Regions from separate parts of the Homo sapiens genome. Here regions 1, 2 and 3 are each linked to region 4. The links come from fine-mapping of genetic effects on gene expression. A gene starts in region 4. Each other region holds a variant in brackets. All regions are shown on one strand. Distances are between the middles of the regions.

Evidence for each region.
Region 1: its variant is fine-mapped to the expression of FXYD5 in monocytes (Fairfax 2014, PIP 0.95).
Region 2: its variant is fine-mapped to the expression of FXYD5 in whole blood (TOPMed, PIP 0.94).
Region 3: its variant is fine-mapped to the expression of FXYD5 in monocytes (Quach 2016, PIP 0.92).

The regions. Positions count from the first base shown.
Region 1 is chr19:35,182,411-35,185,095 of GRCh38, forward strand. No RefSeq gene overlaps it. Among named protein-coding and RNA genes, the nearest start is that of FXYD5, 29 kb to the left of the region's middle. The variant G/C (reference allele first, on the strand shown) is at 1,177.
Region 2 is chr19:35,177,991-35,180,675 of GRCh38, forward strand. No RefSeq gene overlaps it. Among named protein-coding and RNA genes, the nearest start is that of FXYD5, 25 kb to the left of the region's middle. The variant C/T (reference allele first, on the strand shown) is at 1,194.
Region 3 is chr19:35,174,371-35,177,055 of GRCh38, forward strand. No RefSeq gene overlaps it. Among named protein-coding and RNA genes, the nearest start is that of FXYD5, 21 kb to the left of the region's middle. RefSeq lists a silencer at 1,481-1,637. The variant GA/G (reference allele first, on the strand shown) is at 1,406.
Region 4 is chr19:35,153,158-35,155,842 of GRCh38, forward strand. FXYD5 (FXYD domain containing ion transport regulator 5) reads left to right here and starts at 1,578. Exons shown (of 9, transcript NM_014164.6): 1 at 1,578-1,652; 2 at 2,394-2,454. The coding sequence starts at 2,394. FXYD7 (FXYD domain containing ion transport regulator 7) reads left to right here. Exons shown (of 6, transcript NM_022006.2): 6 at 737-1,145. The coding sequence ends at 759. RefSeq lists enhancers at 546-1,410, 2,349-2,518.

The DNA.
Region 1 (2,685 bases), 29 kb after region 4:
TCCACATGGCTACACTGCCCCAGAGAAAGGACTCACACTGAGGCCCCACTCCCAAAGACCCAGGCTGCTACCACACAGGGCTATTTTGAGAACAGAGCCCACTGCTAGAGGGCATTCTGCCTTGGATGCCAATAGCTCCTGCATCTCCACATCCCTGGGGTCCTTCTGTTATTCCACCATGTCTACACAAAAGGGTGCAATGCCACAACACCAGTTAGATCCAGAAGTACAGCTATGACCCCAGCATTTGAACTCATACAGTGCCCCACACCCCAGGGAACAGGCAATCTATCACAGCAGGGTGGCAGCCCCCAAAACATGGGGAACCAATGTGCAAATCCCTCAGGGACCAAGGACTTGCCTGCCTGGTGCCCAACAGTGATGGCAATGCTGCCTCACAACTAGCAGAGCCACCATGCCCAGTGCACACTTCCCTAGGGTTCACCCAGCTCCTTCCTCCAGCAAAGCCACACCACTGCCTCCTTAAACACCTGAATATTAGGCCACTGAAGTATTCACAGACACTGCTGACATTAATTACAGCCAAAGAAATCACATGGAGATCATACTACTGTGTTTATCTAGAACCACAGCCAAAGCATCCTACACAACCGACACTATAGGGTACATATACAGGAAAAAGTCTTTACTTATGAAAGTTACTCCATCAAATTGGAAGAGGTAGCTATTATACCAGATGTGTAGGAACACAAGAAACATGAAAAAGCAAGAAAACATGACACCTCTAAAGGAACACAATAATCCTCCAATAATAGACCCCAAAGAAAAGAACATCTGTGCAATTCCCAAAAAAGAATTCAAGTGATCATAAGGAAATTTGATGGGATACAAGAGAATACAAATAGACAATTCAACAAAATCAGGAAAACAGGGCTGGGCGCGGTGGCTCACGCCTGTAATCCCAGCACTTCGGGAGGCCGAGGTGGGTGGATCACCTGAAGTCAGGAATTTGAGAGCATCCTGGCCAACATGGCAAAACCATGTCTCTACTAAAAATACAAAAACTAGCCAGGCATGATGGTGCATGCCTATAGTCCCAGCTACTTGGGAGGCTGAGGCAGAAGAATCGTTTGAACCCTGGAGGCGGAGGTTGCAGTGAGCCAAGGTCGTGCCACCGTACTCCAGCCTGGGCAACAGAGTGAGACAACATCCCCC[G/C]CCCAAAAAAATCAGGAAAACAGTTCATGATCAGAATGAAAAAAAATCAGTAAAGAGATGGATATCATAAAAAAAAACACATAAATTTTGGAGCTGAAGACTTAATAAATGATTTTTTTTTTTTTTTTTTTGAAACAGAGTCTTGCTCTTGTCACCCAGGCTGGAGTGCAATGGCATGATCTTGGCTCACTGCAACCTCTGCCTCCCAGGTTCAAGCAATTCTTCTGCCCCAACCTACTGAGTAGCTGGGATTACAGGCCCCTGCCACCATGCCCAGCTAATTTTTGTATTTTTAGTAGAGACGGGGTTTCGCCATGTTGGCCAGGCTGGTCTCGAACTCCTGACCTGGTGATCTGCCCACCTCAGCCTCCCAAAGTGCTAGAATTACAGGCGTGAGCCACCGATCCCGGCCAATAAATGAAATTTAAAATATAATTGAGAGCTTCAACAACAAACTAGGTCAAGCAGAAGAAAGAATTTCTAAACTTGAAGACAGGTCTCTTTTGAAATAACTCAATCAGACAAAAAATAAAATAAAAAAGAATGAAGGAAGCCTACAAGACCTATGGGACATTGTTAAGCAAACAGATATTCCAATTTCCAAAAGGAAAAGAGATGAGAAAAGACACAGAAATCCTATGTAATAAAGTAATAGCTGAGAACTTCCAAAGTCTCGGGAAAGGTATGGACATCCAGATTCAGGATGCTCAAAAGTCCCCAAATAGATTCAACCCAAAAAGGTCCTCTCTGTAGCACATTCTGGTCAAACTGTCAAAAGTTGAAGACCATGAGGGAATTTGAAAAACAGCAAGAGAAAAGCATCAAGTCACATATAAGGGAATCCCCATTAGACTAATAGAAGACTTCTCAGCAGAAACCTTATATTACAGGAGCGAATGGGATGATATATTCTAAGTGATGAAAGAAAAAAACCTGGCAGCCAAGAATACTGTAACAGCAAATCTATCCTTTAGAAATGAAGGAGTCATAAAGTCTTTCCCAGACAAGCAAAAACTGAGGGAATTTATTACCACTAAAGTAGCCTTACAAGAAATCCTCAAGGAGTAGTAAATCAGCAAATTATCTGAATAGGCATTTCTCAAAAGAAGACATACAAATGACCAACAAGTATATATGAAAAATATTCAACATCATTAATCATCTGGCAAATGCAAATTGATACTACAATAAGATATCATCTCACTCCACTTAGAATGGCTGTTATCAAAGAGAAAAAATAACAAAAGCTGGCAAGGATGCAGAGGAAAAGGAACTCTTATACACTGTTGGTGGAAATGTAAATTAGTACAATCATACTGGAAAACAGTATGGAGGCTCCTTAAAAACACCTAAAAATAGAACTATCCTATCTATGATCCAGCAATACACTCTAGGGTATATATTCAGAGGACAGGAAATGAGTATGTCAAAGAGATATCTGTACTTATATGCCAAAGATAAGGTAAGCATGGTTACTATAGTTGATAGTGAAGTCAAAATAGTAATAAG
Region 2 (2,685 bases), 25 kb after region 4:
ATCATAAGGGACCAGACTTGCTGCTCTGCCACCCTAAGCATGTGGCCTGAAGCCTCAAGATCACAAAATAGCTGCAGAAGCCTCAGCCATCATGCCACATTCCAGGAAAAAAATCAAGAAGGGGAAAAAAAAGTGAGAAAGGAAAGGCACCACTAGGTGATTCAGCTCCTTTTAAAGGGACTTCCCAAGACTCCCTCCCAAAGATTTCTACTTCCTTCGGATTGCTACCTCTAATTGCAAAGGACACAGAAATGTGGTCTTTTAGCTGAGTCCGTGACACCCCAAATACCATCAAGGAAAATAATTGCCCTCAGGAATTTGTTGATTAGGATGCTGAGAAGGATGGGGAGCTGCCACCAAGTCAGGAGATGGAGCCTCAAGTCATTTTTACTCCAATGTAAAAGGAAAAGATAACTGTTAAGACTGGGGGTTGGCCAGGCACAGTGGCTCACACCTGTAATCTCAACACTTTGGGAGGCCAAGGCAGGTGGATCACCTGAGGTCAGGAGTTCGAAACCAGCCTGGCCAACAGGGTGAAATCCCATCTCTACTAAAAATACAAAAATTAGCCAGGCATGTGACACATGCCTGTAATCCCAGCTACTCGGGAGGCTGAGGCAAGAGAATCACTTGAACCTAGGAGGCGGAGGTTGCAGTGAGCCAAGATTGCACCATTGCACTCCAGCCTGGGTGACAAGAGTGAGACGTCATCTCAAAAAAAAAAAAAAAACTGGTCGTTTTTGAAACTTCCAGAGGACAGCAGCACTGATTCTCAGACTTGATAGAGACTTCCAGACATCACTTCAACAGCGCCTCCAATGCTCTCCAATGCTACCCAATCCCTTTCTGGCAAAAGACATCTTTTTCTGTGGCATCATGGTCTGAAGTGAAGCCTCCTCCTCCTCCACCCTTACATCAGGGGAGATATCTTGCCAGGAGCTAATGGAGTGGATGTTGTAATTCAGCTAGCCTCCTGAGTACAATTCTGTCAAGGTTCTTGTTTTGAAATTGAGGCCAGATCACATTAACTGGAAGGAATCTGCCTTTTCTCATCTGACACTAGATTGTGCTTTTCTTGGAGGTGTTGAGGATGACCTCCAATGATTGCTTCGGTAAAGTCTGTTGGCTTCTCAAGAAGTTATTGAGTCAAGGACTCCAGCTGCTGATGGTGGGAGGTTAAACAGGGTTTGAAA[C/T]ATCGCCTGAGGTGGCTTTGTAATGTATCACCTTGGCCAGGTTAAACTACACTTCCCAGAATCTTTTTCCCTAGATGCCTGTGTTTTCTGGTTAGGGTGAACCACAAGAGACATTCTTGTCAGGGATCTGCTGGGTAGAGGTGAAGCCACGGACATTTCGCAGCTTATACCAGTTGTCACTTATCAGACAGCTCATCTCATTGGCATAAGGCAGCAACCAGGGCTGCAACTGTTTCACCTTCCGCTGGATCCTCCTTCAGCTTCCCCAGTTGTTGGGCCAGACATGTGTGCTCAGCCCCGTGATGAAGGACCATGACTCTAGCAAGACACCCACAGCACCAAGGTCATAGACAACAAGAATTAGCATGGGGCTGGGTGCAGTGGCTCATGCCTGTAATTCCAGCACTCTGGGAGGCCGAGGCGGGTGGATCACTTGAGGTCAGGAGTTCGAGACCAGCCTGGTCAACATGGTGAAACTCCATCTTTACTAAAAATACAAAAATTACCCAGGCGTGATGTTGCATGCCTGCAATCCCAGCTACTCGGGAGGCTGAGGCAAGAGAATCTCTTCAACCTGGGAAGCAGAGGTTGCAGTGAGCAGAGATCACACCACTGCACTCCAGCCTGGTCGACCGAGTGAAACTCTGTCTCAAAAAGAAAAACAAAAAGAAAGAAAGAAAGAAAAAAAAGAAGAGAAAAGAAAAAGAAAAAGAATTAACATAGGATTCAGTCCATCCTTGTGGACTCCAGCTTGTGCTTGTGGGTTCTAACTTGTTCCGTGCTCTCCCCAATCTTACCTCAATCTTCCCTTCCTGACTTCCTGCACCTGTGGGTTTCAAGTTCCAGCATCAAGACAACAGCCCTACAAAGAGAGCTTCACTAGCAACTACAATTGTTGAAGGTCAAATTCGTGTAGCAAACTGTGTGTGTGTACGCCCACATATGTATTAAAGGTTCAGCTTTGCTGATACAGAATTTGGTACTAAGAGTGGTTCCAGAAGGCCAGAATCTTAACAATGAGATCTGGTTTTTCTTTCTCTTTTTTTTTTTTTTTTGAGATGGAGTCTCACTCTGTCACCCAGGCTGGAGTGTGGTGGCGTGATCTTGGTTTACTGCAAGTTCCGCCTCCCGGGTTCACGCCATTCTCCTGCCTCAGCCTCCCCAGCAGCTGGGACTACAGGCGCCTGCCACAACGCCCAGCTAATTTTATTGTACTTTTAGTAGAGACGGGGTTTCACCGTATTAGCCAAGATGGTCTCAATCTCTTGACCTTGTGATCCACCTGCCTCGGCCTTCCAAAGTGCTGGGATTACAGGCGTGAGCCACCGCGCCCGGCCGAGATCTGGTTTTTCTAGAATTGGTTCTCTAATTAAATTGAAAGCCATTAATGACCTTGTTTTCAGTAATGAAGGGTACACTGATAGGTCATAGCATGGAGTGGCAAGGCAGTCACTCAGACCATCACCAGTAGCTTCCTATATTAGGTTTCTAT
Region 3 (2,685 bases), 21 kb after region 4:
AGAGAGAAAGAAGAAAGGAAGGAAGGAAGGAAGGAACGAAGGAAGGAACGAAGGAAGGAAGGAAGGGAAAGGGAAATCTAAATGGCCAATAAGCACATGAAAAGATGTTCAATATCAACAGTCATCAGTAAAAATAAATGAAAATCACAATGAGATACCACCACACACCCACTAGGATGGCTAAAATTAAAAAGACAGACACTTCCAAGTGGGAAGAGGATGTGGAACAAGTGGAATTTCCATTCGTAGCTGGACCAGAAAGGGATACAATCACTTTAGAAAACTGGCAGTTTCTAGGCTGGCCACGGTGGCTCACACCTGTAATCCCAGCACTTTGGGAGGCTGAAGACCATCTGAGGTCAGGAGTTCGAGACCAGCCTGGCCAACATGGTGAAGCCCCGTCTCTACTAAAAATACAAAAATTAGCTGGATGTGGTGGTGGGTGCTTGTAATCCCAGCTACCCGGGGGGCTGAGGCAGGAAAATCACTTGAACCCAGGAGACAGAGGTTGCAGTGAGCCGAGATCAGACCACTGTACTCCAGCCTAGGCAACAGAACGAGACTCGGTCTCAAAAAAAAAAAAAAGAAAAGAAAAGAAAATTGGCAGTTTCTTAAAAAGGTAAATGTGCACTTAACCTATGACCCAGCTATTCAACTCTTAAGTATTTATCCAAGAGAAGTCAAACCACATGTCCACACAAAGACCCACACACAAATGTTTACAGCAATATCTGTAATAGTAAAAAGACTAGAAACAACCCCAATGTCCATCAGCACAAGTGAGTGGACTACAAACTGTGGAAGGAAGAAAGACTGAGCTACACAACACATGAATGAATCTCAAAAGCATTGTCTTGAGTGAAAGAAACCACACACGAAAGAGCACAGACTGTGTAATTCCATTTATATGAAGTTCTGAAATATGCAAAACTGATTAACAGTGATAAAAATCAGAAGAGTAGTGGCCTCTACTATGTCAGCAGGAGGTGGGGAGAGACTGCAAAGGGGCATGAAAGAACTTTCTGGAAGGATTGAAATGTTCTGTGCCCTGATGACAGTGGTGCAGATTACATGTCCATATATTGATCAGAATGATCAAATTGTACGTTTAAGTTTTGAGGGCTCGGTGCCGTGGCTCATGCCTGTAATCACAACACTTTGAGAGGCCAAGGCAGGTGGATCACTTGAGGTTGGAGTTCGAGACCAGCCTGGCCAACATGGTGAAACCCCGTCTCTACTAAAAATACAAAAATTAGCCAGGCATGGTGGTGCATGCCTGTAATCCCAGCTCCTCAGAAGGCTGAAGCAGGAGAGTCGCCTGAACGTGGGAGGCGGAGGTTGCAGTGAGCCGAGATCGCGCCACTGGACTCCAGCCTGGGTGATGGAGCAAGACCCTGTCTCAAAG[GA/G]AAAAAAAAAAAAAGATTTGTACACTTTACTATGTGTAAGTGATATTTGGATGTGTGACCCCTCCAAATCTCATGTTGAAATGTGATCCCCGATGATGGAGGGGGGCCTGGTGGGAGGTGATTGGGTCATGGGGGTTGATCCCTCATGAATGGCTTGGTGTCCTCCCCATGGTCATGCGTGAGTTCTTGCCCTCTTAGCTCACGTGACAGCTGGTTGCTTAAAGAGCCTGGCACCTCCCCCTCTCTCTGTCTTACTCCTGCTCTTGCCATGGGACACGCCTGCTATCCCTTCACTTCCTGCTATGAGTAAAAGATTCCTGAGGTCTCTTCACCAAAAGCCAAGCAGATGCTGGTGCTGTGCTTGTACAGCCTGAAGAACCATGAGCCAAAGAATTCTCTTTTCCTTATAAATTACTGTCTCAAGTATTCTTTTATGGCAATGCAAAATGAACTAACACAGTAAATTATAACTCAATACAAAACAAGAACATTGAAAACAAATAGGCAGTTCTGTCCTGGGTGGTGATGATTTTCTGATCCCTGGATCTCAGACAGAGCAGCCAGATGCTGAAGCTGACGTGTACAATGGGGGCTCCTGATTAGGGTGGAGGGAGAAGCTCCTTGGGCAAGTCAGTCTGCTCATGTTGTGGAATCATTTGCAGTCTTCACTTAGAGCGCACTCCACCAGCCTTTCCAAAGAGCTTGTCAACCTCTAATTCCTTATGCCAAGCCAGACCAATTTTGCTTAAAATTGACAGTCACAAATAATCTCAAAATCTCGTGGCTTACAACAAAGGTTTGTTTCTCGCTCTCACTACATGTCCCTCACGGTTCAGCTAGGAGCTAGGATGGGACCCAAGATGATGGGGAAGCCTGGGCTGGGCGCAGTGGCTCACACCTGTAATCCCAGCACTTTGGGAGGCCGAGGCAGGCAGATCGCTTGATCTCAGGAGTTTGAGACCAACCTGGCCAATATGGTGAAACCTTGTCTCTACAAAAAATACAAAAATTAGGCCAAGTGCAGTGGCTTACACCTGTAATCCCAGCACTTTGGGAGGCCGAGGCAGGCGGATTACCTGAGGTCAGGAGTTTGAGACCAGCCTGGCCAACATGTCAAAACCCCATCTCTACTAAAAATAGAAAGATTAGCCAGGCATGGCGGTGCATGCCTGTAATCCCAGCTACTCAGGAGGCTGAGGCAGGAGAATCACTTGAACCTGAGAGGCGGAGGTTGCAGTGAGCCGAGATCAAGCCACTGCACTCCAGCCTGGGTGACAGA
Region 4 (2,685 bases):
CAAGCGATTCTCCTGCCTCAGCCTCCCAAATAGCTGGGACTACAGGCACACACCACCACACCCGGCTAATTTTTATATCTTTAGCAGAGATGGTGGTTCACCATTTTGGCCAGGCTGGTCTCAAACTCCTGACCTCAAACGATCCGCCATCCTCGGCCTCCCAAAGTGCTTGGATTACAGGCGTGAGCCACAGCGCTTGGCCTGTTTCATGTTTATTTAATGAGTTTTAAAACATGAACAAGGCACTTATGGATGCGTGGGGCAGCATGGGGGTTGGCCTTGTCACCTGGGGCACAGCTGAAGACTTTGCACAGGTTTCTGGTCTATCCTAGGTGAATGATGGTCTGCAGCGGGTGGGGAATGGGGGACTTCCCGTTGTATCCAAATGTTCAGGACAGGGAGTGTAGGAAAGGAGTGAGGGTGTAGGAGGAGATTGCAAATGGGAAGGGAGATGGGGACTCCCTTTCTGGCAGGCGGATAGCCCCAAAAGCCCAGGTTGGGTCTGGGGTCGCCAGCCCCGTAGCAGGTGTTTCTCTCCATGACAGCAGCCAGGAGGTGTCCCCAAGGGAACAAGACATTAGAGTGTGGGAGGCAAGACAGCTCCTCAGTGTTAGCTCTGGGGTGACAGTCCCTGGGGTCTGGCTTCCATGGTGCCGGGGAATGGAGAGCCAACGAGCTGTGGGGAGGGAGGCAGTTTCCACCTTTCTAGTGGCTCACGCACCCCCTCTCTCCCCAGCCCCTGGTGGCGGCGGCGTGTAACACCTTCCCGAGGAAACTCCGCTGCCGACCCTGCCTGAGCGCGGGAGCCTGAGGACCGGGTGGAGGCGGTGGGGACCCAGCCGCGCGCCGGGAGCGCTCCCCGGAATGAGCCGCCCCACCCACCCCAAGGCTGGAGCCGCTGCACCCTGCTGTCCCTCTCCAGGCCTTGGCAATGACGATCCCCCAAAGAGCCCGTCTGCACCCCAGACCCAGGGCCTCAGGCCTCCAGCTCCTGGGATCCGGGAGTCCATCCCGGCCCAGCACCCCCAGCATCCCCGTGTATGGCCCCCCTGCACCTCCTTGTCTCATCCCCGAAGATCCGTCCCCCTGGCCCCTCAGTGTCCATGTCTTGAGCTTAATAAATGTGCATTTGGTTTTTTCCTCTGTTCTGTCTGTGTGTTCTCATCTGTGGGGCACGGTGTGGGTAGGGGTGCAGAACTGAACCTGGGGTAGCTCTCCCCTGCGTGCCCGGAGTCGCCCCCTCTTCATTCTCCTCCCCCAGTGCCCCGAGATGCCCCCCTTCAATCCCTTCTCCTTCCTCAACACCTCCGGATTTGTCCTTTCCCTTCCTCCAGCGACCCCAGAATAGAGCCCTCCCGTTTCTCCCCCTGCTCTCTCAGAGGCGTCCACTCACCCTAGACCTGCCTGCCCCATCCCCGTTCCCACCCTCTCCCACCACTATGCCCTCACCCCTGCCCCCCGTCGCCCTCAGCGATTCCCCCTCCTGCTCCCACCCCGGGCTCTGAAGCCAGGAAACCCAAGAGGAAATGACTGAGCCCGTCTGGGTCCCCGCCCGCTCGCGCTCCCCTGGCCACACCCTCCGCCTGGACGCAGCAGCCACCGCCGCGTCCCTCTCTCCACGAGGCTGCCGGCTTAGGACCCCCAGCTCCGACGTAAGTCCCTCTCGTGCGCCACCTCCATCCGCTGCCCCTCTGCCCACGGGCCGGGCTCAGGTGGGTAGGGGTTTGACCCCTTCCGCTCCTCTCCGCCCCCCATCCACGCCCACATCTCTCTGCCTCCTCTCCTGGGCTACAGTGGGCCGCTCTGCCTCGCTCCCGCCCGCCTGCCTCAGTCTCCCCAGCTCTCTGCCACCCCCCTCGGACCAGTGCCTCTTAGGTCTCTCCAGCGCGCCATCCCTGCAAGGCGGCCCCTGACACCAACTCACTTTTTCCTCTGAGCGCGGGAGGCGTTACTCACTCTTCCTCCTTCCCCTCCTCGCCGACTCCCGGGCTCTGGGCCCCTGGGGGAGGGAAGAGGCCTCCTATCTACTCCTCTGCCCCAGTCCCCTCCTTGCGTCAGTCCCAGTGAGGGATAAGCGCCTGGCGGAAGGCGCAGGGAGGTGTTTCTCTGCTTCAGGAGTGCCCGCCGGCCCTTGCAGCTGCTGGAAGACCCATTTATCTCATGCTTCTTGTTTTCTTTGGGGACCTGCAGGGGAAGGAAGCAGGGTGACGGTTTGGTATCCCCACCTAAGACCCTCCCCTTTCCCCTGAGGCCAGCCGTCAGCCCCTGGCAGGGGGTCTTGGAAGCCAGAGGTTTTTGCTCAGGGCAGGGAAAGGGCTGCAGGATCCCCGGGGGCTGCCGGAGGTCGGTCTCACTGACATCATGGCTGACCCCAGCATCGCCTGGTCCCACAGATGTCGCCCTCTGGTCGCCTGTGTCTTCTCACCATCGTTGGCCTGATTCTCCCCACCAGAGGTAAGACCCATCTCTGGCCTCCACCCTGCCCCAGAGCCCCCAGCCAGGCCAGCCCCACGTGTGCTGCGGGGTGGGTGGTTGGCCCGTGTGAACGTTGTCCTGCCCTGTCACCCTCCCGCTGAGCCGGCACCAGGAAGTGGGGATCCCTATGGCGGGGCGACGTTACACCCTCTTTGGACACCTCAGACCCGGGTGGCTGCTTCCAGTGAGTCTGGCCAGGGCCTGTCCTGC